Regions from separate parts of the Homo sapiens genome. Here region 2 is linked to region 1. The links come from fine-mapping of genetic effects on gene expression. A gene starts in region 1. The other region holds a variant in brackets. All regions are shown on one strand. Distances are between the middles of the regions.

Evidence for each region.
Region 2: its variant is fine-mapped to the expression of NAALADL1 in whole blood (TOPMed, PIP above 0.99).

The regions. Positions count from the first base shown.
Region 1 is chr11:65,054,810-65,070,505 of GRCh38, forward strand. NAALADL1 (N-acetylated alpha-linked acidic dipeptidase like 1) reads right to left here and starts at 3,744. Exons shown (of 18, transcript NM_005468.3): 1 at 3,528-3,744; 2 at 3,269-3,441; 3 at 3,066-3,187; 4 at 2,562-2,684. The coding sequence starts at 3,712. It also overlaps a transcript of CDCA5 not described here. RefSeq lists a silencer at 11,948-12,242.
Region 2 is chr11:65,025,011-65,040,706 of GRCh38, forward strand. SNX15 (sorting nexin 15) reads left to right here and starts at 2,429. Exons shown (of 8, transcript NM_013306.5): 1 at 2,429-2,626; 2 at 7,158-7,193; 3 at 7,421-7,541; 4 at 9,837-9,952; 5 at 10,049-10,196; 6 at 10,510-10,653; 7 at 13,562-13,819; 8 at 14,676-15,562. The coding sequence starts at 2,528. The coding sequence ends at 14,782. ARL2-SNX15 (ARL2-SNX15 readthrough (NMD candidate)) reads left to right here. Exons shown (of 11, transcript NR_037650.2): 4 at 2,308-2,626; 5 at 7,158-7,193; 6 at 7,421-7,541; 7 at 9,837-9,952; 8 at 10,049-10,196; 9 at 10,510-10,653; 10 at 13,562-13,819; 11 at 14,676-15,562. It also overlaps the pseudogene EEF1A1P18. RefSeq lists enhancers at 2,247-2,541, 13,800-13,849, 13,920-14,039 and a silencer at 2,391-2,560. The variant T/C (reference allele first, on the strand shown) is at 7,516.

The DNA of each region.
Region 1 (15,696 bases):
TCCTCGACTGTGGAAGCCAGGATAGACCAATCTTCCATGGGCAAGATGACGTTTGCACAAGTCATTTATGGCAGTGCCTCTTGCAACAGTAAAGGCCAGTTCGGCACAGCCAAGCCCGTGCCTATCAGTGGAGTCTGGTTGAATAACAGGGACATCCTACAGTGGAATACCATGAAGCTGCATAAAATAACACAGTTGTGTACTCATGTCCACAGCAGCATTATCCTCAACGGCCAAAAGGAGGAAATAGCCCAAGTGTCCATCAACAGATGAATGGCTAAACCAAATGTGGGCTGTAACATACAATGGAGGCCGGGTGGGGTGGCTCACGCCTGTAATCCCAACACTTTGGGAGGCTGAGGCAGGCAGATCACCTGAGGTGGGATCACCTGAGGTCAAGACCAGCAGGTAGATCACCTGAGGTCAAGACCAGCCTGGCCAACATGGTGAAACCTTGTCTCTACTAAAAATACAGAAATTAGCCAGGTGTGGTGGTACACACCTGTAGTCCCAGCTATTTGGGAGGCTGAGGCACGAGAATCGCCTGAACCTGGGAGGTGGAGGTTGCAGTGAGCTGAGATCATGCCACTGCACTCCAGCCTAGGTGACAGAGCAAGACTCTGTCTCAAAAAAACCCCAACAAACAAACAAACAAAAAACAATGGAATATTATTCAGCCTAAAAAGAAAGAAAGTTCTGATACATCAATGAGCCTTGAAGATGTTATGTTAAGTGAAATAAGCCAGACATAAAAAGACAAATATCTTATACTTTCACTTATGCGAGGTACCTAGAATAGGCAAATTCATAGAGACAGAAAGTAGAATTGAGGTTACAGAAAATAGAATAGGGGCTGGGGCAGGGACCTGGGGAGTTATTGTTAAATAAAGTTTCTGTTTGAAATGATGAAAAGGTTCTGGAAATGGGTAGTGGTGATGGTTAATTAATAATCTGTGTATTTCTACACTGCTTGTTCCCCTTTCTTTTTCTTTTCCTTTTTTCCCTTTCTTTTCTTCCTTCCTTTCTCTCCACCTTCCTTCTTTCTTTCTCTTTTCCCAGCTCTTATTATGGACACCTTTTTTTTTTTTTTTTTGAGATGAGGTCTTGCTCTTGTCCCCCAGGCTGGAGTGCAATGGCATGATCTCGGCTCACTGCAACCTCTGCCTCCTGGGTTCAAGTGATTCTGCTGCCTCAACCTCTGAGTAGCTGGGATTACAGGTGCCTGCCACCATGAGCGGCTATTTTTTGTATTTTTAGTAGAGACAGGGTTTCACCATGTTGGCCAGGCTGGTCTCGAACTCCTGACCTCAGGTAATCCACCTGCCTTGGCCTCCGAAAGTGCTGGGATTACAGGCATGAGCCACCGCGTCCAGCCCACTTTTAAAAAAATTGTGGTAAAATACACATAACATAAACTTAGCATGTGGAGTATGCAGTTCAGTGGCATTCAGTACATCCATATTGTGCAACATCACCACCATTCATCTCTAGAACTCTTCATCTGACAAATCCGAAACTCGGTCCCCATTAAATACCAACTATCCCTTCCCCTCTCTCATTCTACTCTTTTTATATTAATTTTGTTTGTTTGTTTGTTTTTTGTTTTTAGAGATGGAGTCTCGCTCTGTCACCCAGGCTGGAGTGCAGTGGCACAATCTTGGCTCACTGCAACCTCCACCTCCTGGGTTCAAGCAATTCTCCTGCCTCAGCCTCCTGAGTAGCTAGGACTACAGGTGCACGCTGCCACACCCAGCTAATTTTTGTTTTTTTGTATTTTAGTAGAGATGGGGTTTCACCGTGTTGCCCAGGCTGGTCTTGAACTCCTGAACTCAGGCAATCCGCCTGCCTTGGCCCCGCAAAGTGCTAGGATTACAAGCGTGAGCCACCACGCCCATGCCCAGCCTTTTTTTTTTTTTTTTTTTTTTTAAATCAGAGTCTCGATGTCTCCCAGGCTGGAGAGTGCAGTGGTGCAATCTCAGCTCACTACCATCTCTGCCTCCCAGGTTCAAGCAGTTCATCTGCCTGAGCCTCCCCAGTAGCTGGGATTACAGGCATGCACCACCATGTGTGGCTAATTTTGTATTTTGAGTAGAGATGGAGTTTCACCATGTTGGCCAGGCTGGCCTTGATCTCCTGACCTCAGGTGATCTGCCCACTTCGGCCTCCCAAAGTGCTGGGATTATAGGCGTGAGCCACAGCGCCCGGCCCCTAGTCAGAATTTTTGATGGAAAAGAAATGGCAGGGAGAGGGCCAACAGGAGGGACTTAAGTTGAATATTCAAAACTATTTCACAGGAGGACTTAGACTTCTGGAATACCAAACCTGAAAATTGTACTCAACCCCTTTATTTCCTACAGCTCAGAGAGGGTCAGGGAGGCATCCGAGGCCACACAGCCCATTGGTGGGACAACCCGAAAACACCTTGCCTTTCCTGCCCCACCCTGGGGCTTGGTTCCCCACTCAACACTGCCTCTTCTCCTTCCCCTTCCCCTCACTTCCTCCAGTCCACTGCCCAGCCCCTTCCTCACCGAGGCCTCCTGCACTGGGGGACTGCCACTCACCTTGGCCCCACGCCCTACACCCCCATATCGAGTCAGGGCAATGGTGCCTTCAAGTTTGATGCCCTGAGTCTGTAGCTCCTTAAAGTCTTCTTCCGCGCCCCGGTTGGCATAGACGAGGAGGCCCTAGTCCCAAGAGGGGGTGATCCTTAGAGCTGGGCCCAGCGAAGTGTGGGTGGGGAAGGGGGGTGGAAGTTTGCATGGCAGGAGGGAGAATTTAGATTCTGTTCCCCCACCTCACCCAGAGCTTGTAAGCTCCCCAAGAACAGTCACCCCTCATTTCCTCCATGTCTGGGTGCCCTGTAACAGACCTGGCCTTGAGCAGAGCCACTAGTGTTTGTTGAATGACTGATGGAGGAAAGGAGCAGCGATGGAGTGTCCCGGTGAGTAAATTCCGGAGGGCGCGCTGTGCCCCAGTTGAGGCACGTTCCCTGGGTCAGGGTGGGGAGAACCCTGGGTGGAACCAAGGGAGCTGGGCCAGAGCAGTAGGGGGGGTTCTGGGCCCACCTGTGGGGTTCCAGAAGGAGCATAGGCAGCATAGGGTTGTACCACATCTGGCCCCCCTTGCTCCCCGGTCACGTTCTCCTCAGTCCGGTGGCAGGAGTGGATGATGCCCCCAGTGGGGCCCACTGTTGGAGGGGTGGCAGTATCATGGCTGGGCCCAGCAGCTCCCCACCCCCGGGCATTCCCAAGACTGGGCAGGACCTCACCGATGTCCACGACGTTGGGCTGCTCCTGGCTAGGGAAGGACAGCAGCACTTCGTACGTGGAGGCCTCGGCCGAGTCCAGGCCTGACTCTGGGTCCTTCCAGCGCTGCAGCAGCAGCTGCACCAGGTCCTCATCCCGAGGGCTGGAGGCCAGGTGTGGCTCCCTGGAGAGTTCTCTGCAGGGTGGGCAGAGGGAGGGGCAGGGCCAGCATCAGGGAGGGGGCCTCTGGCAAACGGAGGAGCAGATGGCCCCACTTCTCACCTGAGGTTCTCCCGGATCCTGTGGGCATCCAGCTGCCCCATGACGGTCTCCAGGATCTCCAGGTCCAGGTCCTGGGGGGCCAGTGAGTTGGCTTTTTTGGGGATGGCAAAGTGGCCGAGGATGATCCCCAGCCCCAAGAGGGCAGCAGCCCCCAGCCCCAGCCCCAACACCTTCGTCCACTGCATCCTGCGGACTCTTGGCCAGCTGGGGTAGGACTGGTCTATAGGTTATTCCCTATAGAGGGGGTGTTGTGCCTGGTTAAACATTACCCCATGGGTGGCACTGCCCTTTGACCCCCAGCTGGCAGGGAGAGTGAGGGAACATCCCGCAGTGAGAGCCAGGAGCCATCCACATCCACCACATCCTGCACCATTTGCCTGGAATGGCTCTCCAAGGGCAGCAAGGTCACCCAGGGACACTGAAGCCGAGAGGGAAGGGGCTCATCCAGGGTGTCCCAGGAAAACAGAGGCCAAGCCAGGGCTGGAACTCAGAGCTCCTGTGTTCACAGCAGGGCCGTGCCCACTGCCCACCCTCACTGCCTCTGCCTCCCTCCAAGGCAGCCGATCTACAGCATACCCAGCCCTACCTGCCTGAGCAGATTTTGAGTTGAGATCCCCCTTCTTGCTGGACGTAAGCTGTGTGACCTTGGGCAATCCACTCAGCTTCTCTACACCTGTTTTCTTTTTTTTTTTTCTAGACTGTGTCTTCCACTGACACCCAGGCTGGAGTCCAGTGGTGTGATCTCGGCTCACTGCAACCTCCACCTCCCGGGCTCAAGTGATTCTCCTGCATCGGCCTCCCGAGTAGCTGGGATTACGGGTGTGCACCACCATGTCCAGCTAATTTTTGTATTTTTAGTAGAGATGGGGTTTCACCATGTTGGCCAGGCTGGTCTCAAACTCCTGATCTCAGGTGATCACCCGCCTCAGCCTCCCAAAGTGCTGGGATGACAGGAGTGAGCCACCGTGCCGGCTATGGTGTCATTTTCATTAAACAATATGGCATCTGTAGAAATAGCTAGTGCAGTGTCTGACATGTAGTGGGAGCTCATCAATTTTAACTACTCATCCCTCATCTGACTCTGGAAAATGTAAGGCCTAGAGCTAAAGGAAGAAGGAGGACCCAGAAGAACTCTCTGTGTCTATCCTGAAGGGAGCCCAGCGATACGAGGAATGGGAGTCCTGGGAAGGGAGGCTGTCCCAGAGGAGGCAGCAGGGGAAGCCCATGCCTCCCTGGCGAGGTGACTTCCTCTTCTATCCCCTGGCTCTGCCTGGACTCCGTCATCCACCCTCCTATTTATCCATCCACCCATCCCTCCATTCACTTATTCATTCCTTCCTTTATACATGCAAGCACTGTTCATTCTGTGCTATACTAGAGCCATGCAAGGCTGTGGGGAAGCAAAATCCAGCAGGCGAGGCAGACAGGCTTTAGGTTCAGCCATGTGGTAAGTGCCCTGTAGAGGGAGGATCACCATGCTCCCAGTGAAAGAGTGAGGAGTTCTGACTAGGAGGGAACATCTGAGGGGGTCCTCCAAGGCTGAAAAGGTGTTCCAGCATTTGCAAGGGCTGAGAGGGAAGTGAGACCCCAAGTATGCCATACACATACTGAGCCTCTTCCAGACCTCACGGAGAGCCAGGAGGGGCTGGGGGGGTCCCTAGGGACTTGAGCTGGGACTTCTCCCACCCTCCCATGGCCTATCCTGCCTTGACTCTGCCTCGCAGGTTGCAGCCCATGGATGGGCTCAAAGATGCCTGCAGAGCTTGGGGGCTGGATCAGGGCAGAGCGTGTGTGTGTGTGTGTGTGTGTGTGCACGTGCATGTGTGTGTGTGTGATTTCACAGACCCCTCTCAGAGCAGCCTCCTTCCTGCTCACAACCCCATTTTGCTGGCACCACCATCTCTTGTGCTGCTGGTGAGGAGGTTCAGCATGGGAGGACTAGGGGTGGCTGGGAAGGGATGTCATGTGATCAGTGACTTCAGGGAGGTGCACCAGGAAGCCACAGTTCTTGGCAACGTGATTATCGACGCCCAGAATATGACCTTGGATCTTATCAGAAGCCCATCGGTGCAGGGAGCATACACCTTCCTTATGAGGACACAGGACAGTCACCACCAGGTGGGGAGTGGGATGCCAAGGTCAGCTGATAAGTTGAGGGACTGAGGCAGCAACCCCATGGTCCTACCCCACCCACTCCTGGAAGGATTTAACCCCTCAATCATGTGAAGTCACAAACAGGACGCCTGGACAAAAGTGTGTGACATCTGAGTGATAACACCTGGGACTGTGGTTTGTGTTGGAGAGTGTGTAAACAGCTGTGTGTGTGACACCCAAGAGATCCACTCAGGCTGTTGGAATCCACTGGTGTCTACATGGCTGTAGGCACCAGACGTTAACTTAGTCAATTTTCTTTCCTTCATCTTTGCTGTGTGGGTGGTATGGCCCCTCCCAGAACATTCTGGATTGTGGGAGTTCCTAGAAATAACTTACGGTAGTTAGAGCACATGAACACCTTTCATTTTCCTGCCTTATTCTCCCAATGGCTCTGGGTCCAAGGGGTCTTCAATCCTCCAGGACCAGCAATGCACTGCTGCTGGCTCCCTCCCCACTCTCCACCTGCCCCACACACTTGCCTCCGTCCCACCCTCCTTCACCTCCCACGTGTACTCACCTTGCCCAGTTTGAGGCCCTGGAAGCCCTCTTAACCCCCAATCCTCTCTGCTTTGGTCACATCCACTGGGAAAACACCATTCTGGTTACTTCTGACTCACTTTCTGCTTCTTCTGCGCCTGCACCCTTGCCCCTGGATGTGCCTGCAGAGTCACGTGGCCTCCCGGACACCATGTTGTGAAGACACTCAAGCAGCCCTGTGGACAGGCCTCATGGTGAGGCGCTAAAGCCTCCTGCCAACATTCAGCACTAACTTGCCAGCCCTGTGAATAAACCAACTTGGAAATGGGTCCTCCAGCACCAGCCAAGCCGTCAGAATACAGCGGCCCCTGCTGGAATCTTGACTGCAGCCTCACGAGAGTCCCTCAGCCAGTACCACCCAACCAAGCCACTTTCAGATTCTTAACCTGTGGACACTGTGTGAGATAATACATGTTTATGGTTTTGGGCTACTAGGTTTTGGAGTGATTATAACCGAGCAAAATAGGCCAGGCGCGGTGGCTCACGCCTATAATCCCAGCACTTTGGGAGGCGGAGACGTGCGGATCATGAGGTGAGGAGATCAAGACCATCCTGGCTAACATGGTGAAAGCCCGTCTCTACTCAAAATACAAAAAAATTAGCCGGGCGTGGTGGCGGGCACCTGTAGTCCCAGCTACTCTGGAGGCTGAGGCAGGAGAATGGCGTGAACCTGGGAGGCAGAGCTTGCAGTGAGCCGAGATAGCGCCACTGCACTCCAGCCTGGGTGACAGAGTGAGACTCCGTCTCAAGAAAAAAAAAAAAAAAAAACAAAAAAAACCACAGCAAAATGGAGAACCAATACAAATGACTAAATATAGACCAGAAACCCGCAAGTATATGTCTCCAATCTAACCCATCCCCGAACTCTTGTATTTCCAGCTGCCTAATTTTTTTTTTTTTTTTTTTTTTTGAGACAGAGTTTCGCTTTTGTTGCCCAGGCTGGAGTGCAATGGCGCGATCTCGGCTCACCGCAACCTCTGCCTCCCAGGTTCAAGTGATTCTCCTGCCTCAGCCTCCTGAGTAGCCGGGATCACAGGCATGCGCCACCATGCCCAGCTAATTTTGTGTTTTTAGTAAAGATAGGGTTTCTCCATGTTGGTCAGGCTGGTCTCAAACTCCCAACCTCAGGTGATCCGCCCGCCTTGGCCTCCCAAAGTGCTGGGATTACAGGCGAGAGCCACCGTGCCCAGCCTGCAGTGGCCTCTTAACTGGCCTCTCTGATTGTATTCTTGTCCCCTCTAGTTTTTTTCTCTACATAGCAGTCAGACTCATCTTTGTGAAACCCAGGTCCGCCATGTCACGACCGTGCTCACAGCCCTCCAAGTCTCCCTTTACACTCAGAGTAACAGTCATGACAGTGGCCATAGAGCCCTTCATGTCTCAGACCCGGTCCCCTCCCTGTCCTCCTCACTCACGGCTCCTGTAGCTCTGGCCTGCTACTGTCCCCTGAGCCTACCAGGCACACTCCTGACTCAGTGCCTTTGTGTTGGCAGCTCCCGCTCCCTAGAACCCTGCTCCCCAGCTGTCCACAGGGCTCCTTCCCTCAGGTCCTTTGTGTCTTTGCTCAAATGTCACTTCTCAATGAGCTCTTCCCTGACTACTCTATCTGAAATTGCATTCCTGGCTGGGTGCAGTGGCTCATACCTATAATCCCAACACTTTGGGAGGCTGAGGCAGGAAGATCGCTTGAGTCCAGAAGTTCAAGACCAGCCTGGGCAACATAGTGAGAATCCATGTTTAAAAATACATAAATAAAATAAAATTGCATTCCTCCCCCTCCCTCAGGCTTCCTCTTCCTCTGTGGCTTCATTTTTCTCCATTGCATCTATCCTCATGTTACTTGTTCATTATTTCTTGCTGCCCCTCCCAGAGCGTAAGTTCTACCAGGGCAGACATCTTTGTTTTATTCACTGCCGAAGCCCCAGAGTCCAGAGCAGTGCCCGGCACCTATGAGGCACTCAACAAGTATTTGTAGATTGGAGGCAAAGCTGACCTACGCCAGCACAGCAACTCAACACTCCTGCTCCAGCTGTCTTCTGTCCAAGGGGTGTTCAGAGCAATAAGAGATGTAAAAGGTGGGCACGAGACCCCTGGGAAGCAGATCCCCTCTGGGTAAGCCCCACCAGACTGCCAAGGCAGCCATGCATAGGACACCTGCGTAACAGGCGCAGGTGCCCTCACAAGATGGGGATGGGATCTAACAGACTTTCAGTGCTGGGTGTTCCCAAAGGATGACGTTGCAGGATGGAGGAAGGCCCTGCCAGGCTGCAGGGTCTGGCCACCCTCTTGGGCAGGAATACCAGGCCCTTTAGTGGGGAAGGGAGCCTGCTGGGAACACTGGTACTCAGAGCTGCTCCCACTGGGCCTGCAAAGCCAGTTTGGGGGCCAGGGTAGATCCACTGGAGATCAGATAACAGTCGCCAACACATGGAATGCACCAAGTCCACACAAAATCATTCATCCTCCGAGGTGGACACAGTGGAACCCCATGTTACAGATGAAGATGTGTGTCCAGGCACTCAGTCAAGGTCACACCAGACAGCAAGGGGTGGAGCTGAGAGTAGAATGCAGCGCCTGCACATTCACGAAGCTATCCCACCTGCCATCACTAGGCAGGAGAGAGGCATCCCATTCTGCCCCTCACTAGAGAAATGGTGCCAGCCAGACAGAGGAGGCTGATTTGCTAACCCAAGCCCAGTGCCTTGATGACAGAGGCCCAGGAGGTGTGGGCACAGCTTGTGACTCACATGGTAGCCTCCTTTGACTGGGAGAAATGTGTGTGAATGAAAGGACCAGGTAACACCCTGGGGCCCACGCAGCTTTGCTGTGGGACCTTCCTTGACAGGAACCTCTGGGCTGGGCTGGGACTGCTTGGATGCAGTGTCAACAGGAGTGGCTGCAGGGACTGACCTCAGGACAGCCAGTGAAGGATCCCTGAGCTGCAGAACCATGGCCAGGATGCATTCGAATCTATAAGCACTTCTGTGGTTTGGAGCTGGTTGGGGAGGGGGCTCCGTAATAGACTCCATTTCCTGCAGCCAAGCAGTATTCATGTAACCTTATTCGAGCGCTGTCCCAGGCTGAGACATAATTAAATAAAAGCATAATTAGCCGGGTGCAGTGGCTCACACCTGTAATCCCAGCACTTTGGGAGGCCGAGGCAGGTGTATCACAAGGTCAGGAGATCGAGACCACCCTGGCTAACACGGTGAAACCCCGTCTCTACTAAAAATATAAAAAACTAGCCAGGCATGGTGGCGGGTGCCTGTAGTCCCAGCTACTCGGGAGGCTGAGGCAGGAGAATGGCATGAAGCCAGGAGGCAGAGGTTGCAGTGAGCTGAGATTGCGCCACTGCACTGTAGCGTGGGCGACAGAACAAGACTCTGTCGCAAAAAAAAAAAAAAAAAAAGCATAATTAGTCTCTCTCTGTGTCCTTTTAAAGGAAACATCAAATGGGACCATGCTGATGACTGCATCTTATTGACAGAAGTCCTTAAATGGGTAATTGATTTAGCTGTTGATCCAACTACCATCAACCTCAGTACCCTATGATTCCCTTTGGGAAAATTGCAAGACAGCTGTTTGTACAGCAGGGCCCCTGGTCAAGGACAGGTCAGGAAGTAGGTGGTTGGGGAGGTCTGGGATCCCTACAGCCATCGGGTGAGGAGGGTAGAGTCTCAGAAGGGGTGGGCTGCTAAGTCAGAGATGTTAGTCTGGGAGCGGTAGCTAATGCCTGTAATCCCAGCATGTTGGCAGGCTGAGGCGGGAGGATTCTTTGAGCCCAGGAGTTTGAGACCAGCCTGAGTAATATAGCAAGACCCTGTCTCTATTTATAAAAATAAAATGTAAAAATATGAAGAAAAGAGATGTTAGCTCAGCTCAATTCAGCCTGAAGCTGGGGCAGAATCAAATAGTCACTAATCAAGCACTTCATCAGTTACTTTGCCCAGGCCTGATCCCTAGGAGTCTGGTGTAAGTCAAACCAGGCCTGGGGAGAAGCCACAAACCTGAATTTCCATCCTCTTGGCTGTTGTCTCCCTACAGTGAACATAAGGCAAAATGATCATCCCCAGCCCGTTCCGTGTCACACGAGGATTAACGAAGGAATTCTGCATGGTGGATCTTTTACCATCCATTAGACCTAGATGCTGTAAAGTTAGAGGTTACTTTACAGAAAACTGATTAAGATGCAAAATGATTTCTGCCCAGTGAATAATACAAGCCTTAGAGTTATGGGACTTTTTATTTTATTTTAAATTAAAAAAAAAATTTTTTTTTGAGATAGTGTCTTGCTCTGTCGTCCAGGCTGGAGTACAGTGGTGCCACCTTGGTGCGCTGAAACCTCAGCCTCCCAGATTCAAGTGATTCTCGTGCCTCAGCCTCCCAAGTAGCTGGGATTACAGGCACGTGCCACCACACCTGGCTACTTTTTGTATTTTTAGTAGAGACCAGGTTTTCCCATGTTGGCCACACTGGTCTCAAACTCCTGACCTCAGGTGATCTGCCCACCTCGGGCTCCCAAAGTGCTGGGATTACAGGTGTGAGCCACTGTGACCAGCCCGGGTTATGGGATTTTAAAAATAAATGCCCTTTAGAATATTAACCAATTTTGTATGTAATTTAGCAATCTTCTATCAGGATTCCTTGCTTTCTCCCCCTTGACTATATACGTGTCAGTTTTTTGTATTCTTTTTTGCAACCCCATTGGTGGAGGGGGGTTGGGGGCTCCCAGGAGGCCCTGGGCCAGAGGGCTCCTGGGTTGGAGGTGAAACTCAAAATCGATATGTATCTCCAGGCCTGAGGGGTATAGGATGCGGGCCCTTGGGGAGTTGCCACCACCTCTCTCTGCCCCCCAACCCCATGACTTACAAAGGGGAAGGGACTTTTCCAAGGTCACCAGATGGTTAGTGGCTCTTCCCCTATCCCTCCCCCGCCTACACCCCAGTATCCTTCTGCACTTTGGAGTTAGAGCAGGTACCCAGATCCTCCGGGGAGGGACTGCGGCCCCTTTCTGGCCTCACCCCAGTGCTTATCTTGGGAACATCGCCCTTGAGCTCTCATCTCCAGGCTGACAACAACCAGGCCTGGAACCTTCTGTGAGGGGTCGGGGGAGGGCAGGGCCATGTCGGGGAGGGGTAGATGCAGAATGGGTGAGCTGAGGGAGTGGGGGTGATGTCAGAGGGTGGCTGAGGGGCTGAGCTCAGTGTGGACGTGGTGACCTCCTGCTCCCCACCTGAGCCCAGGGCCCACAGACACTTGGTGAAGCTGAAGCTTAGCTTCCAAGTTTATTTCTGGGATCTAGGGAGGAGCTGGCTGAAGGAGCGGCCTCCCGAGGAGGTGTCCGACCTCTGGCCTGGGGCCTGGCCAGGCCTGACCCTGGTCTCTGTGGTCGTGGGGCAGGTCAGGCAGCTTGAAGAGGAGACCTGCCTTCCGGGGGTTTGGGTCACTGCAGGCAGAGACAGCTCGAGTGAGCAGCATGGGGCAGCCGCCTCTTCCCTCCCCGCTGCCATGGCTGCCCGCACACCTGAGCAGAGCCACCTCCGGCAGGGCCTGGCTTTCCTCCTGCAGGGCCTTCACTTCATCCTGGATGGCCTGGGCCTCCTCCTGGATGGCCTGGGCTCCCTCCTTCAGGCTCTTATACAATAAGGTGGGCTGGACAAAGGGTTGCAGGGCTCGAGGTGGGTAGCCAGCCATGCAGGACAACCCGAAGCCCCTCTAGGAGAGCTGGGCTGGGAGGCAGGGAGGAGGCAAGACAAAGAAATGGGGTCCTGGCTCAGGGTCTTACCAGGTTCTGCAGCTTCTCCCCCAGGGCCAGGTTGTGCACTTGGGTGGTGTTCAGTGACTCCCGAAGCCTAGGGTTGAAAAACAGACCCCTCCCACCTCAGCCAGGCTTTTGTTCCAGGCAGCACTCCCCACCCCTCCCACCTCCTGCTTCAGCCACCTGGTCCTATAGCCACCTGGGACCAGTGTTTCAGTAAGAGCCCAGTCTTCCTGTCCCGGCAAAACCACAGGTGGGATGGGAATTGTTCTCCCTGAGTGATTGGTAGCAGGGGACCGAGAGAGAGACTAATTATGCTTTTTGTCTTCCTTTGCAAGAGCAGGGCAGGCTGCTTCTGTGGGTGGGCTAGAAACCCTCTGAGGCTCCCCTTGGAAGGGGTGGGTGGTATAGGGCTAGCCGCTCCTTTGGGCTGTAGGCAGGGTTGCAACAGGATTCTCTGTGGCTCCAGGCCAGTGACAGGGCCAATGCTGGAACCAGCCCTGCCTAGGCGCTCCAGGTCAGCTGTGTATGAATGGGAGAGCTGATCACTCAGGTCTATGGCCTGGAAGCCTCCGTCATGCCCTGCCCCCACCTCAGGACCTTTGCTGACAGATGGGGCTCTGACCCCAGCATTACCTGAGAGGGGCGAGCGGCCATGGGATTGTGTGGACCCCAGCTCCAGAGCCCGACATCCAGAGAACAAGCCCCTCCCCCAGACTGAACGCTCCTCAAGTTCTTGGACAATTAAAGGTGGGGGTTCCTGAATGCCCGTTCACCAGCCACGTGGGCCCTGACCTGAAAGCCAGGCCTGGCCTTGGTCGGGGGAAGCCCTGTCACCCTACCCGCTCCCATCTGCCCGCCCAGATCACCTCATGCAGTCATTCTGCAACTGCCTGATCTCCTTTGAGGTCCGCTGGGGGCCCCAGTCCTCCTGATCTAAGAACTGGTACTCCTGGATCTCCGAGTCCCTGGAGCAAGTGGGTAGTGAAGGTCAGGCCAGAGGGTCTAGGGGATGAGGGAAGTGGGTGGGTGGTGTGGGGGTGCCCAGCCAAAGGCCCCGGCTTCAGCAGGCCTCTCTGGGCCTCCTCTCTGCACGGGCCAGGACTGAGTCCTAGCCCAGGTTTGAATGTTTCTGGGTGTGGGGTGGGGAGAAACACCATCCACCTCCCCCAGTTTTGTGCGTGCCTGCATGTGCCTGCATGGGCACTCTCTCTCTCTCTCTCTCTCTCATGCAGCCTTACGATTCAGGGTCTTTTGGCTCAGTGGGCTCAGAGGTGTTCAGGAGTGTAAACAGGAACGTGACGGTGGGTTCCAGTTGTTCTGAGGAAGGTGGCTTTGCAGAGAAAGCGCCAAGGTGACTGGAGAGGGTCACGGCTGCTCACCCAAGAGCCTGGGTCCTCCCACACCCCCCATCCTTGCCATCTCCCTGTCTTTCAGGGGCCCCATCGTCTGTATCCCCCACCCTGTAGGGAAAGCCTGGTAGGAGGTATGAATGGGACCTGTCCAGGAGGCCCTCCAGCGCTGAACTCCCCTGCACCCATTCCTCAGCCCTGAACCCAGGAGCTGGGCCTGGACGCCCTGACAGCTGGAAGCTGGGTGTGACGACGGGGGTTCAGGCCTCCATTCAGATACAGGAAGAATTTCTCCAGCTCTCCTGCCTCCCCTGCCCACTGCCTTAGGAGGCCCTGGGGTTTCCCATCACCTCCAAGTTCCGCTCCTCGGAAGCCTGAGGGCCCTTGGGTTCTTGCTCCTCAACAGGCTGCACCACTGGCTTGTTGGCCAGCTTGGAGTGGGCTCTTTGTCTGCCCCTAAGAGACTGAGAGAGACAGAAGCCTGCTAGTCACTCACATCTACCATCCCCGCTATGCCATTTCTAGCCTGGTCTGGTTTTTAGGGGGCGGCTTCCAGCCTGGCGAGCGTCTATCACCAGCTCTGTCCAGCAAGCCAGACCCCCTCAAAGTGAAAGTTGCCAGATTTAGTAAATACAATATAGGCCCAGTGAAATCTGAATTTCAGCTGAAAATGGATACTTTTTCAGTATCTGTCTCACACAATGTTTGGGATATACTTACACTAAAAAACAATTCACTGTTCATTTGAAATTCAAATTTAACTAGGTGTCCTGTATTTTATCTGGCAGTCCTGCCAAACTACATGCTAAAAATATTTTGAGGCTGAGTGCAGTGGCTCACGCCTGTAATCCCAGCACTTTTGGAGGCCAAGGCGGGAGGATCGCTTGAGCCCAGGAGTTAGAGACCAACCTGGGCAACACACCAAGACCCCATCTCTGCAAAAAATTAAAAAATTGGCTGGGCATCGTGGCGTGTGCCTGTAGTCTCAGCCACTTGGGAGGCCGAGGTGGGAGAATCACTTGAGCCTGGAAGGTTGAGGCTACACTCAGGTGTGTTTGCATCACTGCACTCCAGCCTGGGCTTCAGAGCGAGACTCTCAAAAAAAAAAAAAAAAAAAAAGCTGAAGTTAATAGAATTGTGGCTATTTTTCACCCCGGTATTTTTCAGAATCTTGTGCATCTACTGGCCAAGTAACCACAGACATGGTCCTTCTTCACACTGAGTCCACCTGCGCCTCTAGATCCCCATGGACTTGTGGCAGGGGGCTTGTGGCCTGGGCTTGTGGCTGTGTTATATTGTACCTTTCTAGGCAGCCTAAAATTACACAATTCCTGACCACGTGACATAAACCGACAGCTCTGCAGAGGGCCCCGTAACCCTGGAAAGTCCCAGAGCTCCAGCGTGGTATGGCTGCTGGAGAATAGGTAGCTCTGTCACCAGGAGAACCTGGCTGCGTATAACAAGATCCACAGAACGATGGAGAGTCATGCCTCTGAGAACCTCACTTTGGAAACGGCTTAAAGAAACAACTCCAAATAAAAGTAATTCACATGGACGACCACAGTAGCTGATTTACACCATGAAGAAAAACTGGAAGGGGCCTAAAAGGCCCAAATATAAGAAGTGGTAAGGAAACAAAGACTTCTTCACATGGTAGGATACAATTCACTCATGCGCTTACTGGTCCCTGTAAACATTGCCTGTGGCGTAGGCCTTGGGAACATATAGATGGACACAACCTGGTTCTGCGCAGAAGTTTCCGGAAGATGAGGGAGGCCTCAGGTTTGCAGCTGACCACAGTGCGGGGGGATGAGCCACACAGAGGTTTGTACAGCGAGCCCTGGCTGCAAGAGGAGGGAGCCATGCATTCTGCTTCGGAGCTCCAGAGAGACTGCACACAGGATGTGCCGCCGGGTCTCAAACAAGGACGCAGGGGAGACCAGAAGAGGGAATGGTGTAAGCAAGAGCCGTGGGGTCCTGCGAAGGGCCCAAGACAGGGCCTGGGCTGTAGCCCACAGGGGACGAGGAGGCATAGGGATCTTTGTGTGTCTGTTATGTGGGCTGTTTGGCCATAGTTCAGAGGGTGAGTGGAAGGCGTAGACACTGGGGCCAGGATGCCAAGGGCCCTGGAAGTGAGGAAGAGAGGCAAGCCACCAACTGCTGCATGTGACAAGTGTCTAAACTCTGTTAATCCTGGAGAAGGTGTGCATGAGACCCTGTCACACCACAAAAGTGGGTCTTAACGGTGGTATGGGCTGGGTACCAGTGTACCCACGTAGGGTTGCCAAATAAAACACAGAATGCCAGGTTAAATTGGGATCTCAGATAAACGATGAATTTTTTTTTGAGACTTTATTTACTTTTGAGA
Region 2 (15,696 bases), 30 kb before region 1:
GTAGAGATGGGGTTTCATCATGTTGGCCAGGCTGGTCTTGAACTCCTGATATCAAGTAATCCGCCCGACTTGGCCTCCCAAAGTGCTGGGATTACAGGCATGAGCCACTGCACCTGGCCCCCAGCTAATTTTTAAATTTCTCATGAAATCAGAGGCAGCCTGTTGCCCAGGCTGGTCTTGAACTCCTGGCCTCAAGTGATCCTCCCGCCTTGGCTTCCCAAAGTGCTGGGATTACAGGCATGAGCCCCATGCCAGGCTTTGCTTCTTTCTGAAGACCAAGGCACCGCACCTGTACACCTGAATTCCAGGAACAAGAGTGGCTATTCACAATGCTTCCTCTGCAGTAAATACTATGTGTTGTATGTAAGCCTACCAACTTCATGCTGCATTTCAACAGATTTTTGCTTCAATTCTAACACTGACTGGAGCAAAGGTCTCAAAACCCATGCCAGGTTTGGGAACACCAGTCTCCACGTGGCCCACACTGACAGTACCAATACCACCAATTTTGTGGACGTCTGGAGGGGCAGAACCAAGAGCTTGTGAGTTGGTGGTAGGATGTGATCTAGAGCTTCCGAGCAGCGTGGTTCCACAGCATCGCCATCTTTACAGGTGACTTTCCATCCCTTGAGCCAAGGCATGTGAGCTCTTGGCTCCCGCCTGTTGTGACCACTCCAACCAGATATTGGCACAAATACTACTATGTCAGAGTTGTAGCCAATTTCTTAATGTAGGTGCTGATTTCCTTAATGATTTCTCCCATCTCTCCTTTTTTTTTTTTTTTTTTTTTTGAGACGGAGTCTCACTCTGTCCTCTGTCTCCCAGGCTGGAGTGCAGTGGCACGATCTCAGCTCACTGCAACCTCTGCCTCCTGGTTTCAGGCAATTCTCTGCCTCAGCCTCCCAAGTAGCTGGGATTACAGGCACCCGCCACCATGCCCAGCTAATTTTTGTATTTTTAGTAGAGACGGGGTTTCACCATCTTGGTCAGGCTGGTCTTGAACTCCTGACTTCCTAATCCACCCACCTCTGCCTCCCAAACTGCTGGGATTACAGGCGTGAGCCACCACGCCCGGCCCCCATCTCTCCTCTTTAGGGTGGCTCATTGGGATCCATTTTGTTAACACCAACAATTAGTTTCACACCCAGCGTGTAAGACAGAAGGGTGTGCTCACGCGTCTGCCCATTCTTGGAATTACCAGCTTCAAATTCATCAACACCAGCAGCAACAATCAGGACAGCACAATTAGCCTGAGGTCAGGTTTTTGATAAAGTCTCTGCATCCTGGGCCATTGAGGATGGTCACATAGTACTTGCTGGTCTCAATTGCCAGCAGGGAGGTATCAGTGGTGATACCACTCTCACGTTCAACTTTCAGCTTACCCAAGACCCAGGTATGCTTGAAGGAGCCCTTTCCCATCTCAGCAGCTTCCTCAAAATTGTCGATGGTTCTTTTGTGGATCCCACCACACTTGTAGATCAGATGGCCAGTAGTGCTGGACTTGCCCAAATCAGATGATGATGTTGAGCTGAGTCTTTTCCCTCCCCTGCTCCCTTTCTTTTGAGATGGAGTCTCACTCTGTTGCCCAGGCTGGAGTGCAGTGGTGTGATTGCAGCTCACTGCAGCCTCAACCTCCTGGGCTGAAGCCATCAGCCAGCTCAGCCCCTGGAGTAGCTGGAATTACAGGCGTGCGCCACCACGCCCAGCTAATTTTTGTATTTTTAGTAGAAACGGGGTTTCACCATGTTGGCCAGGCTGGTCTTGAACTCCTGACCTCAAGTGATCCACCTGCCTCCACTGCCCAAAATGCTGGGATTACAGGCGTGAACCACCGCGCCAAACCCCCATTTTGGCTTTGATTTAACGGTGGTTTTCACGACACCTGTGTTCTGGCAGCAAACCCATCGCAAAAAAGCTCCACTGCCCTACACAGATTCTATTATAAACATCTCCATTCTACAGATGAGAAACTGAGGCTGAGTAGTTAAGGGAAACTCCTACAGCTAGTAAGAGTCGTGACTCAGAGCCCATGACACCATCCTGCTTCTCCAACCTTCTTTGCTTCCTCTACTTTCCAGAAAACATGAATTAGGGAATCCTGTGGAGGGAGACAGGGAAATAATTTGACGTTGTCCTGTACATACTGGACACAATAAGAGTTGGGTGGATGAACGAAAGCAGGGATTTAGGAAGCGGGGAGAAGTCGTTTGGAAGTCTGTGACAAGGGTTTACGCTTGGATAGGGTGGGCTTGATCACCCGGCAGAAATGAGACGAGTGATCCCAGCCTTCCCAACCAATCTTTCCAGTGACCTGGGTTTACGCTTCACCACAGAGAAGGAACTTTTCAGACGCTCCCTTGGCCGCGCACCCGGGATCGGAACAGCGCTGTCACTTGCGACAAAATCCCTAGGCCAGAGGAAGAAGAGCGCAGGCCTGGCGAGGCGGCGGCGGGCGGAGGCTGGGCCGGAGGGGTGGGGACGGCGAGGAGGTGGAGGCCGGCGCTCCGCTCCGCTCCAGCTCGGTTTCATGTCCCGCCAGGCGAAGGATGACTTCCTGCGGCACTACACAGTGTCGGACCCCAGGACTCACCCCAAGGGCTACACCGAGTACAAAGTAACCGCGCAGGTGAGGTGGGGCCCAGCGCGTACTTTACCCTTTTAACTAGAGGGGCGCCGAGTTTTACCTTAAGGAAAGGCGGTGCAGCCACTGCTCCCTTTTTAGACGACAGAAATGGGTTTCCCCTTTAAGGGGAGGTTGCAGTACGAGGCTTAGTTTACATCTTTAACCACCAGGGGGCGGGGTCCTGGGTGGGCGCTGTCTTTTTTAAAAGGGCGTTGACGGCCGTTCCCGGACAGGCAAGGCGTGTATGCCCACGCCCGGAGTGTAGTGTCTGGGCATCAGGCTGTGAATTTCTCTAAATTAACATGAAAACTCTGGTTTAATCCAAATATTAGTACTCCATTCTCGTAGAGTAAGTTTTGTTTATTGGTTTGTTTGATGTTACATAAACTCCCTTTAACGAGTTTAACCATTTTTAATTTTTCAAAAAATAATACTGATCAGTGGTTGAAAAAAATTGATGCAGTTCAGAAGGACTTAAGGAGTAAGTCGCCATATCAAGGTCACAGCAGGAAGATAGATAGGCTAGAGTTGATATATGAAGCGATAACAACATCATAAGCACAATTTATAGAGAGACATGGAGGAAACCATGACAATAATTAAAAATGAAACAGTAAAACAGGACACCTGTAGAATGATAACAAGAACTGGTAACAAGGAAGGTCCCCAGGGAGAGGAACTGTGTCACTGGGGACAGGAGTTAGGGGAAGACTTTTTACTGTAAATTTTTTGTACTTTTAGAATTTTCAACCAGGCGACTATTAAGCTGGTGCATTAGTTAACTCTAAAAGCAAAGCAGGCACATAAGGACACTTCCAAAGTGATCTAAGTGCAGAATCTTAGCTATTTAAAATATGCTTTCCCCAAACCGTTTACGTCTTTTCCATGCCTAAAAATAATGCAAATAAGGCCGGGCTCAGTGGCTCATGCCTGTAAATCCCAGCACTTTGGGAGGCTGAGGCAGCAGATTGCTTGAGCTCAGGAGCTCAAGACGAGCCTGGGCAACATAGTGAGACCCCGGATCAATATTAAAATACAGACACACACACAACTTTAAAAAAAAAAAAAAAAAAAGCAAATAAATAGATTGTCCCTGGGAAGATAGACTGGAGGTGGGGCTGGGGTGGGGAGGATGTGGCAAGGAACTGTAACCTTTTATTATAAGTCTTCCCAGTGGTGGCCGGGCGCGGTGGCTCACGCCTGTAATCCCAGCACTTTGGGAGGCCGAGGCGGGCGGATCACGAGGTCAGGAGATCGAGACCATCCTGGCTACCATGGTGAAACCCCATCTCTACTAAAAATACAAAAACTTACGGGCGTGGCAGCGTGCACCTGTAGTCCCAGGTACTCGGGAGGCTGAGGTAGAAGAATGGAGTGAACCCGGGAGGTGGAGCTTGCAGTGAGCCGAGATTGTGCCACTGCACTCCAGCCTGGGAGACAGAGCGAGACTCCGTCTCAAAAATATAAATAAATAAATAAATAAATAAATAAATAAAAATAAGTCTTCCCAGTGGCTTTTTTGTGTCGTTGTTTTGTTTTGTTTTTGAGACAGAGTCTCACTGTCGCCCAGACTGGAGTGAAGTGACTCGATCTCAGCTCACTGCAAACTTCCGTCGCCCGGGTTCAGATTCTCCCACCTCAACCTCCCAGGTAGCTGGGACTACAGGCACGCGTCACCATGCCCAGCTAATATTCGTATTTTTTGGCAGAGATGGGGTTTCACCATGTTGGCCAGAATGGTCTCGATCTCTTGACCTCATGATCCACCCGCCTTGGCCTCCCAAAGTGCTGGGATTACAGGTGTGAGCCACCACACCCGGCCTCCCATTGGCTTTTTAAACCAAGCAACATGCATTACTTTGATATATTTTTATACATATTATATAATACAATGTATTATATATAATAAATATAAAATATAAAGCACATAATATATAAATATATGTATGTATATATTTTTTGAGACGGAGTCTTGCTCTGTCGCCCAGGCTGGAGTACAGTGGTGTGATCTCAGCTCACTGTAGCCTCCACCTCCTGGGTTCATGCAGTTCTCCTGCTTCAGCCTCCTGAGTAGCTGGGATTATAGGCGTGTGCCACCACACCCGGCTACTTTTTGTGTTTTTAGTAGAGACGGGATTTCACTGTGTTGGCCAGGCTGGTCTCGAACTCCTGACCTCAAGTTATCCTCCCACCTCGGCCTTCCCAAGTGCTGGAATTACAGGTGTGAACCACCGCGCCTGGCCTATATTTTTATTTTATTTTATTTTATTTGCGACGGGGTCTTGCTCTGTCACCCACGCTGGTGTGCAGTGGCATGATTCACGTCTTACTGCAGCCTCAAGTTCCTGCATTCAATCCATCCTCTTGCCTCAGCCTCCTGAGTAGCTGGGACTACAAGCATGTACCACTACGCCTAGCTCAATTTTTAAATTTTTTGTAGAGGCTGGGCGTGGTGGCGCACGCCTGTAATCCCAGCACTTTGGGAGGCCAAGGCGGGTGGATCATGAGGTCAAGAGATCGAGACCATTCTGGCCAACATGGTGAAACCCCGTCTCTACTAAAAGTACAAAACGTAGCTGGGCATGGTGGCGCTCACCTGTAGTCCCAGCTACTCGGGAGGCTGAGGCAGGAGAATTGCTTGAACCCGGGAGGCAGAGGTTGCAGTGAGCCGAGATCACACCACTGCACTCCAGCCTGGTGACAGAGTGAGACTCCATCTCAAAAAAAAATTTTTTTTTTTGTAGAGACAGAGTTTTGCCATGTTGCCCAGGCTGGTCTCAAACTCCTGGCCTCAAGCAATCCTCCCATTTTGGCCTTCCAAAGTGTTAGGATTACAGGCCACCATGACCCACCGTACCTGGCCTATAATTTTTTTTTTTTTTTTGAGATGGAGTCTCACTGTGTTGCCAGGCTGGAGTGCAGTGGCATGATCTCAGCTCACTGCAACCTCTGCCTCCTGGGTTCAAGTGATTCTCCTGCCTCAGCCTCCTGAGTAGCTGGGACTACAGGCACTTGCCACCACGCCTGGCTAATTTTTGTATTTTTAGTAGAGACAGGATTTCACCATGTTGGTTGGCCAGGCTGGTCTCGAACTCCTGACCTCAAGTGATTCTCCCACCTCGGCCTCCCAAAGTGCTGGGATTACAGGCATGAGACACCACACCTGGCCACTCAATGGCTTTTAAATAGTTTCTTTTACCAGAATATTTTAGGCAAGTCTCTGTTGTCAAAAGCAAAGTCCAGGGTTTTAGTCCCAGCCATCTTTCTTACTTAGTGTGTGGTCTACTATGGCCACACCTCTCAGAGCCTCCATTTCCTCATCTCTTAAGTGGGCATGTCAATTATGTCTGCCTCAGTGGGATCTAGGATAAGAAATAGATGTTTTTATTTATTTATTTAGTGTGTGAGAGACAGGGTCTCACTCTCTCCAGGCTGGAGTGCAGTGGTGCAATCTCAGCTCACTGCAACCTCTGCTTAACATGCTCAAGTGATCCTCCCACCTCAGCCTTCTAAGTAGCTGGGACTACAGGTGTGTCACGCCACCACACCCAGCTAATTTTTTGTATTTTTTGCAGATACTGGGTGTCACTATGTTGCCCAGGCTGGCCTCAAACTCCTGGACTTAAGTGCTCTGCCCACCTGGGCCCCCTAAAGTGCTGGCATTACAGGTGTGAGCCACCGTGCCTGGCATAGGAGATGTTATTAAACTGTCAAGTACCCCAAACCATAGGACATTATTTTAAAATTATTATGAACATAACGATGAAAACTGAATCTTGTTTTCACCTCAGACCCAAGTCTGCCCTTCCAGGGACTTCAACTCCAGTGATGGTTTCTTCTGTGTCCAGGGCGCTGAAGCGCAGGATCTTCTCCCGCAGGGAAGGAGGTTCCTGAGGCAGAACCTCCCTTCTTTGGAGGCTTGGGGTTCTTTGGTTTCAGAAGTAGATGGAGGGACTTGGTCTGTTCAAGGAACTGGGATAAAAATTGGGCTGATGGCCGGGTGCTCACGCCTGTAATCCCAGCACTTTGGGAGGCTGAGGCGGGCGGATCACTTGAGGTCATGAGTTCCAGACCAGCTTGGCCAACATGGGGAAACCCCATCTCTACTAAAAATACAAACATTAGCAAGCGTGGTGGTGCATGTCTGTAGCTTCTTGGGAGGCTGAGGTAGGAAAATCGCTTGAACCCTGAAGGCAGAGGTGGCAGTGAGCCGAGAGTGTACCACTGCACTCCAGCCTGGGCGACAGAGCGAGACTCCATCTCAAAAAAAAAAAAGTTGGGCTGAGGTTGGAGCAGTCCAAATGGGCCTTTAGGGGTCCTCCTATTTGATAGATGGAGAAACTGAGGTACATAGTAGGAAAAGTTGCTAAAATTACACGCGAAGGCTTAAAGCCAGGGTGCCTTGATGCCAGAGGCCAATGGCCAAAGGCTACTGCCCCGTGAGGGGGACTAGGAGGCACCTGGGGCATTACAGGGTGAGAGGGTGTCAGATGGCAGTCTCTGGTCTCAACCAGCTCTTGCCTTTCTTTCTCAGTTCATCTCAAAGAAGGACCCAGAGGATGTCAAAGAGGTGAGGCTCCTGGGAGGAAGAGGGACTGTTCTGCAGTTCCAGATCTGGAAACTGTCAAGGGGCAGCTGGTAACTCTGCTTGGACATCGGCCCTCCTTCCTCCCTGTCCCTGGGCGAGGGGCTGCTGCAGCTGCTTCCTGATCCTCACGCCCCCTGGGGGCAGGCTAGGCATGGGGGCGGCTGCCTCCCACCATTGCTGGTTCTGGGCAAGTCTCATGTACCTCATAGGTGGTGGTCTGGAAGCGGTACAGCGACTTCCGCAAGCTGCATGGAGACCTGGCCTACACCCACCGCAACCTCTTCCGCCGCCTCGAGGAGTTCCC[T/C]GCTTTCCCCCGGGCCCAGGTGTTTGGTGAGTGTTAGATTGGGGCACTCGGGCCAAAGATGGAGGGAGCATTGGGCAAAAGGGGACCTCCGCCAGTGGGGGCTGGATAGAGAGGGCCTGAAACCCTGGGCAGAGTCATGTTTGGAAGGGCCCTTAGAGATGACCTCATTTGACAGATGGGGAAACTGAGGCTCAGAGTAGCCTAACCCTTACTGTGTATTTCACCTTTTAACATTCCTGTTGGGCCAGGCGTGTGGCTCACGCCTGTAATCCTAGCACTTTGGGAGGCCAAGGCAAAACTCCATCTCAAAGGAAAAAAAATCCTGTCTTTATCAGCTCCATTTTATTTTCCTTTTTCTTTTTTGTTGTTGTTGACAGCCTCACTTTGTCACCCAGGCTGGAGTACAGTGGCGCTGTCTTGGCTCACTGCAACCTCCACCTTCCAGGTTCAAGGGATTCTCTTGCATCAGTCTCCCCAGTAGCTGGGATAACAGGTGTGCACCACCACGCCTGGCTAATTTTTGTATTTTTAGTAGAGACAGAGTTTCATCATATTGGCCAGGCTGGTCTTGAACTCCTGACCTCAGCTGACCTGCCCGCCTTGGCTTCCCAAAGTGCTGGGATTACAGGCGTGAGACACTGCACCCGGCCCATCTCAATACTTAGTATATTGATTACATGTTGCAATGAGAATATTTGGGATATATTGGGTTAAATAAAATATTAAAATTAACTTGTGGCTAGGTGTGATGGCTCACACCTGTAATCCCAGCACTTTGGGAGGCCGAGGCAAGCGAATCACGAGATCAGGAGTTTGAGACCAGCCTGGCCAACGTGGTGAAACCCCGTCCCTACTAAAAATACAAATAATTAGCTGAGTGTAGTGGCAAGTGCTTGTAATCTCAGCTACTCAGGAAGCTGAGGAAGGAGAATCGCTTGAACCTGGGAGGCAGAGGTTGCAGTGAGCCAAGAGTGTGCCATTGCACTCCAGCCCAGGCGACAGAGTGAGACTCCGTCTCAAAAAAAAAAAAAAAAAAAAAATTGTTTCTTTTTTCCTATTATTTAATCTAGCTGCTAGAAAATTTAAAATTGCATATGTAGCTCATATCTGTATTAGACAGTGCTGACCAGTTGCTTGGGTCTGCATACTCATGTGAGATGTTCTTTTTTGTTATTGGTTTTTGTTTTTGTTTTTTGAGACAGAGTCTCACTCTGTCACCCAGGCTGGAGTCCAGTGGCATGATATCAGCTCACTGCAAACTCTGCCTCCCAGGTTTGAGCGATTCTCCTGCCTCAGCCTCCCAAATAGCCAAGTAGCCACCCAAGTAGTGTGCGCCACCACACCTAATTTTTTTTTATTTTTAGTAGAGACAGGGTTTCACCATGTTGGCCAGGCTGGTCTCGAACTCCTAACCTCAAGTGATCCACCTGCCTCGGCCTCCTAAAACGCTGGGATTATAGGTGTGAGCCACCGCACCTGGCCGAGATGTTCTTTTGAAGCAAGGTAAAGGATTGCTGCTGTCAGGTTATGCCAGGCCAGTGGGGAAGTACCACAGACTGGCCGCACAGTAACTGGACCAGAGTTAGCCTGCTCTGCAAAATACCTAGGACAGAGCAGTGAAACTGTGGCTCGCACCTGTAATCTCAGTGCTTTGGGAAGCCAAGGCAAGGTAATCACTTGAGCTCAGGAGTTCAAGACCAGCCTGGGCAACATGGTAAAACCCCATCTCTACAAAAAATACAAAAATTAGCCAGGCATGATTGTGTGCACCTATAGTCCCAGCTACTTGGGAGGCTGAGGCGGGAGGGCGGCTTGATCCCAGGAGGCAGAGGTTGCAGTGAGCTGAGATCGTGCCACTGCACACCAGCCTGGGTAACACAGCCAGTCCTTTTCTCAAAAAATAAACGGGGGCTCCTTGCTTTGTGACCTTGGGCAAGTCACTTTCCCTCTCTGAGCCTTACTTTTCTCATTAGATCAAAGCCATCAGAAATGCTTTTGTTTCTTGTTAACTGCCTAGCTCCCCCTGGGTAGGATATGATATTCACAAGGGCAGAGACTGGTTCCTCCCCTGTTCACCTTCTGAGTCTAGCATATAGTAGGTGCTCAGTAAACATCTGGCAAATGAATGAATAGGGAAATTGATCCCTCCTGGAAGCCCCTACCTCACCCCAGGAGGAACCAGGGCAGATTGCTGGGAGAATGGGTAGGAGGGCAGTGAGTTGCTCAGAGCATCTCAGGCAGGACCAGGAAAAGTGGCCTTGGGGCAGAAGCCCCTGTGGGTCACCGCCACTCTCCCCTGTTCCTTGTCCTGGGGGCCGTAGGCCGGTTTGAAGCCTCAGTGATCGAGGAGCGGCGAAAGGGGGCAGAGGACCTGCTTCGCTTCACTGTGCACATACCTGCGCTCAACAACAGCCCCCAGCTCAAGGAGTTCTTCCGGGTATGTGCACCTTCCACCTTCCCAGAACTTGGGCCACTTACCCACCCACCAGATTGCACCCCATGACTCCCCATGTCTGATCTTTCTGTCCTGCAGGGTGGGGAGGTGACCCGACCCTTGGAGGTGTCCAGGGACCTACACATCCTGCCACCCCCTCTGATCCCCACCCCGCCCCCTGATGACCCCCGGCTATCCCAACTGCTCCCTGCAGAAAGGAGGGGCCTCGAGGAATTGGAGGTGCCAGGTACATCGGGGTGGGAGGAGGGAACCAGGGCTGGAGGGTGCAGAGTGGGGAGGGCGGCCACACTCCCTCCTCAGTGATCTTACTGAGAAATGTGTGTGTGTCCCAGGTCTATCACTTAACTGGCTGAGGAACTTTGGGCAGGTCCTTTTCCTTCTCTGTGCTACAGTTTCTTGATCTGTAAAATGAGCACAAACCCTAATAACAGGCTTGTCTATGCCCATGGTTGCTGCAAGGGTTTAAGGAGAGAGTAATTCTATTTTGAAAGCTGAGAAATAAACGCAGGTATTCATGACCCCACTTATCTCTTCCTCAGTGGACCCCCCACCATCCAGCCCTGCCCAGGAGGCCCTGGATCTCCTCTTTAACTGTGAGAGCACCGAGGAGGCATCTGGTTCCCCTGCCCGAGGCCCCCTCACCGAGGCTGAGCTTGCCCTCTTCGACCCCTTCTCCAAGGAAGGTAATGAGCTGGGACAGCCGGGAAGGAGCCAGGGCAGGACGTCCTTGGGACAGGGAGGAGGGCAGAGCCCCACTAGCCTGCTCAGTGCCTGCGCAGATCAGGGAGAGACGTCTCCTCAGCAGTGCTGCCCTGTGGGCCAATAGCAGCTTCAATGAGAATTAGAAGCCCTGTGCCAGGGCACGTGGTGTGGTGTGCTGGATGCACCTGTGCAACAAATAGCCACGAGGAAGGAAAGGAGGCACTTCCCATGTTGGGGCCATCTCACTGAGAAGGCTTTGGAAAGAGCCGGGTCACACTGCTCTGGGACATTTTAGTTCCTTCCCTGCAAGCTCTTGGTGGGATTTCCTGACTGGCCAGGGTCTGGCTGCAGATCCTGAAGGCAAGAGGCCTGCTGGTCAATGGGAGTGAGTTCTCAGCTCAAAGGGCAGCTGCAAAGGGAAATCCCTCTGGGGGCCTGGAGCCACTGGCATTTGGGGATGCTGGAGGTAGAAGGGCCCCCCCAATGGAGGTCAGGGTCCTGGGCACCTTCTTGCTGTGAGATCCTGGGACTCGACAGTCCCAAGCTCTGAGACACTGGAGTTTTTCATTCTAAAATTTGCCAACGCCTGGCACATTGGCTCACACCTGTAATCTCGACACTTTGGGAGGCTGAGGCAGGAAGATTGCTTGAGCCCAGGAATTCAAGACCAGCCTGGGCAATATAGCAAGAGTCCATGTCTGTTATTCTTTTTCTTTTTTTGAGACAGAGTCTCACTTTGTCGCCCAGTCTGGAGTACAGTGGCGCAATCTCTGCTCACTGCAACCTCCCAGGTCCAAGCGATTCTCCTGCCTCAGCCTCCTGAGTAGCTGCGACTACAGGCGCGCACCACGGTGCCTGCTAATTTTGTATTTTTAGTCGAGATGGGATTTTTCCATGTTGGTCAGGCTGGTCTCAAACTCCCGACCTCAGGTGGTGCGCCCGCCTCAGCCTCTGAAAGTGCTGGGATTACGGATGTGAGCCACCGCGCTTGGCCCGTTTTTTTTTTTGAGATCGAGTCTTGCTCTGGATTGCCGAGGCTGGAGTGCAGTGGCGCGATCTCAGCTCACTCCCACCTCCGCCTCCCGGATTCAAGCGATTCTCCTGCCTCAGCCTCCTGAGTGGCTGGGACTACAGGCGCGCGCCACCACGCCTGGCTAATTTTTGTATTTTGAGTAGAGACAGGGTCGCACCATTTTGGTCAGGCTGGTCTCAAACTCCTGACACTCAAGTGATCCACCTGCCTCCGCCTCCCAGAGTGCTGAGATTACGGGCGTGAGCCAAAATGCCCTGCCTCTTTCACTTTTCTTGTTCTGCCTCCTCCCGTTCCTGCTCCTGCCTCTCCAGGGTTGGGGAGTGGGAAGAAGGAATGGGAGGGAAAGGCAATGTTGGTGTCACAGGGCTGTTATGCCTGGCCTCTGGGTGGCAGGCATCCAAGTGCTCTGTCCTTGTGCCAGCTGAGTCCCTGCTGGGCAGCTAGCTGCCTGGGCAGGAGCTTTTCTATTTTTTTTCCTCTCCTTTTTAATTTTTTTATTTTTTTTTATTTATTTTTTGAGACAGAGTCTGGCTCTGTCACCAGGCTAGAGGGCAGTGGTGCGATCACGGCTCACTGCAGCCTCCAACTCCTAGGCTTAAGCGATCCTCCCACCTCAGCCTCCCAAATAGCTGGGACAGGACCACAGGCATGCACCATCATGCCCAGCTAAGTTTTTGATTTTTTGTAGAGATGAGATCTCACTATGTTGCCCAGGCTGGTCTCAAGCTCCTGGACTCAAGTAGTCCTCCCACCTCAGCCTCCCAAAGTGCTGGATCATAGGCATGAGTGACTGTGTCCAGCCAGGATCTTTTCAAGACCCTTCACAGACAGCTCCAATGAGACATTCACTCAGCCCATGGGAAAAGTCCCCAAAGCCTGGAACTGCAGTGTGCTCAGACACTGCCTTATTTCCCTACCCTGCCATGGTGGGCACCTCCAACAAGCCTCTCACCACCAGAATTCTCGAGGCAAGGAGTGGGCACCTGTGTCTCCCTTCTTCACAGCAAACTCCTTAACTCGAGTGTGCAGGTGTCCCAGGTACTCTTCTGCTCTCTGCTCCCTGAGCAATACATGGAGGGCTGTAGGCCCAGCCAGGAGGTGCCTTCTCCCTCCTGCAGGAGGCCCGGACTTCTCAGGGCTCTCATGGAACTCACAGGGATGGGGTTAGAGAGGCACCCACTTTTTCCCTCTCCAGGATGATAGGGTATCATGATGCTTCCTGCCCCCGCACCTTCCCCTCAGAGGCCTTTTCACCAAAGGTGCACCAGATTTCCAGTCGCCTCGTGTGTAAGCTGCAGGTAGGATGTCCGACCCCCTTTTAGCCAGTCCAGGGGGATATAATGAGCCTTTACCTGGGAAATGTGAGGACACCTGTCACTCACTGTCTTTACATTTGGGGGCCTCAGCTGAAACTGCAAGGCTTCAGAAAACCCCTGAGATTCTCTAAGTCTCCTATTCTAAGATTATTCCAAGTCTTGGAGCATTTCTACCCTCAGCCTGGTGGTGGTGGCCTAGCATCCTTCAGGGAAACTTTCTGGAGGGGATTTTTGGATTTCTAGGTCAACTGGAGTCAAGAGGGAAATAGGACCAGTGACCCAGAGCTTACAAACTAGAGTGTGTACCTAAAGACATAATTAGGAAGGTAAGGCTGTTTTTACAGAAGCACATGAACCCTATCGATCAAATAGCTCATGGCTAGTTTTTGATCCACAGACGACTTCTGGATTGCTCTGGCATTGGTCCCCTCTACTGGGGACAGGCTGATACCCTGATGGACAAAAGAAGTCTTGGGGTTGGGCAGAGGGCCTGGGAAAGGAAGGGCCAGTCTGGTCCGAGTCCTCCCTTTCTAACTGCAGAAGGCGCAGCCCCCAGCCCCACCCATGTGGCTGAGCTGGCAACGATGGAGGTGGAGTCTGCAAGGCTGGACCAGGAACCCTGGGAGCCAGGAGGGCAGGAGGAGGAAGAGGATGGGGAAGGAGGGCCCACCCCTGCCTACCTAAGCCAGGCCACAGAGCTCATCACCCAGGCCCTGCGGGATGAGAAGGCAGGCGCTTACGCTGCTGCACTCCAGGGCTATCGAGACGGCGTGCACGTCTTGCTTCAGGGAGTCCCCAGTGAGTAGGGACTGAGGGTGGAGGGTCAGGCCTGGGTCCCAGGTGGGGCAGTGATGAAGGGAGCAAAAAAACAAGCAAATCACGGATCAGGAGCCCTTTTACTCCTCACTGACCAGCTGTGTAACCTGGGCAGATTTTTGTTTCTGTTTTTTTGTTGTTGTTGTTTTTAACCTCTTGTGGCCTCAGTTTTCTTCTTCCTCTTTTTTTTTTTTTTTTTTTGAGACAGAGTCTTGCTCTTGTTGCAGGCTGGAGTGCACAATCTCGGCTCACTGCAACCTCCGCCCCCCAGGTTCAAGTGATTCTACTGCCTCAGCCTCCCGACTAGCTGGGATTACAGGCGCCCACCACCATGCCTGGCTAATTTTTGAATTTTTATTTTTTATTTATTTTTATTTATTTATTTTTATTTTTTGAGACAGAGTCTCGCTCTGTCGCCCAGGCTGGAGTGCAGTGGCACAATCTTGGCTCACTGCAACCTCCACCTCCCAGGTTCAAGCCATTCTCCTGCCTCAGCCTCCTGAGTAGCTGGGATTACAGGCACGTGCCACCACGCCCAGCGAATTTTTGTAGTTTTAGTAGAGATGGGCTTTCACCATGTTGGTCAGGCTGGTCTCGAACCCCTGACCTCGTGATCCACCCACCTCGGCCTCCCAAAGTGCTGGGATTACAGGCGTGAGCCACCGCGCCCAGCATGGCCTCAGTTTTCTTATTTGTAGACTGAGGAGAATGGATGCTGGGCCCCAGAGAGGAGGGAAAAGCACATGGTGATGCTCTGCGAATTGTAAAGGACCCGACCAGGGGTTCTGACCAGGCCAGTGGTGCCCAGGTGCCTCAGCTGAGCATTCTCTCTCCACAGGTGACCCGTTGCCTGCCCGCCAGGAAGGTGTGAAGAAGAAGGCAGCTGAGTACCTGAAGCGGGCAGAGGAGATCCTGCGCCTGCACCTGTCTCAACTCCCACCCTAACAGGGAGTGGGCCATTCCCTGGGACTCTCGCTCCTGCACTGCCAGCCCCTTCTCCTCTCCCCAGGGCCTGGCCCTACCTCCTGGTCTTGTAATTACAGGAGCCATTTCTGTAGGTAACTGGACCAAGAATGAGAAAAATAATGAATTCTTAGCTCCCTGATTACACCTGCCACCTTGGAATCAAGGACTCACACTTCTGACCCTGCCTGTCTTTTTGGGGTTTTTTTGAGTTGGAGTCTCGCTGTGTCGCCCAGACTGGAGTGCAGTGGTGGGATCGCGGCTCACTGCAACCTCCACCTCCCAGGTTCAAGCAGTTCTCCTGTCTCAGCCTCCCCAGTAGCTGAGATTGCAGGCACATGCCACCACGCCCAGCTAATATTTTGTATTTTCAGTAGGGACGGGGTTACACCATGTTGGCCAGGCTGGTCTCGAACTCCTGACCTCAAGTGATCCACCCGCCTCAGTCTCCCAAAGTGCTGAGATTACAGGCATGAGTCACTACGCCCGGCCCATGTCTGTCTGTCTTGATGTGTGAGCAGCAGCTGTGGTCATTAAACCATTAGTTTACCCCTCTAGAACTGGGGTCTGCAAACTCCCACCTGCAGCCAAATCTGGCCCACCTCCTTTTTAATGTAAGGGCTGTGAGAGTGGTTTTTACTTTTTTTAATGATTAAAAAAATCAAAATAATATTCTGTGACAATGACAGGTGAAATTTATATGTGACAAGTGAAAATTATATGAAATTTAAGAGTCCATAAATAAAATTTGTTGGAACACAACCAGGCTAATTCATTTAGTATTGTGATAGCTGCTTTCGCGCTACACTGGCAGTTGAAACAGTTGCAGAGTTGAGTCTTTGCCGCCTGCAAATCCCAAAACATTTACAACCTGGCCCTTTGCAGAAAACATTTGC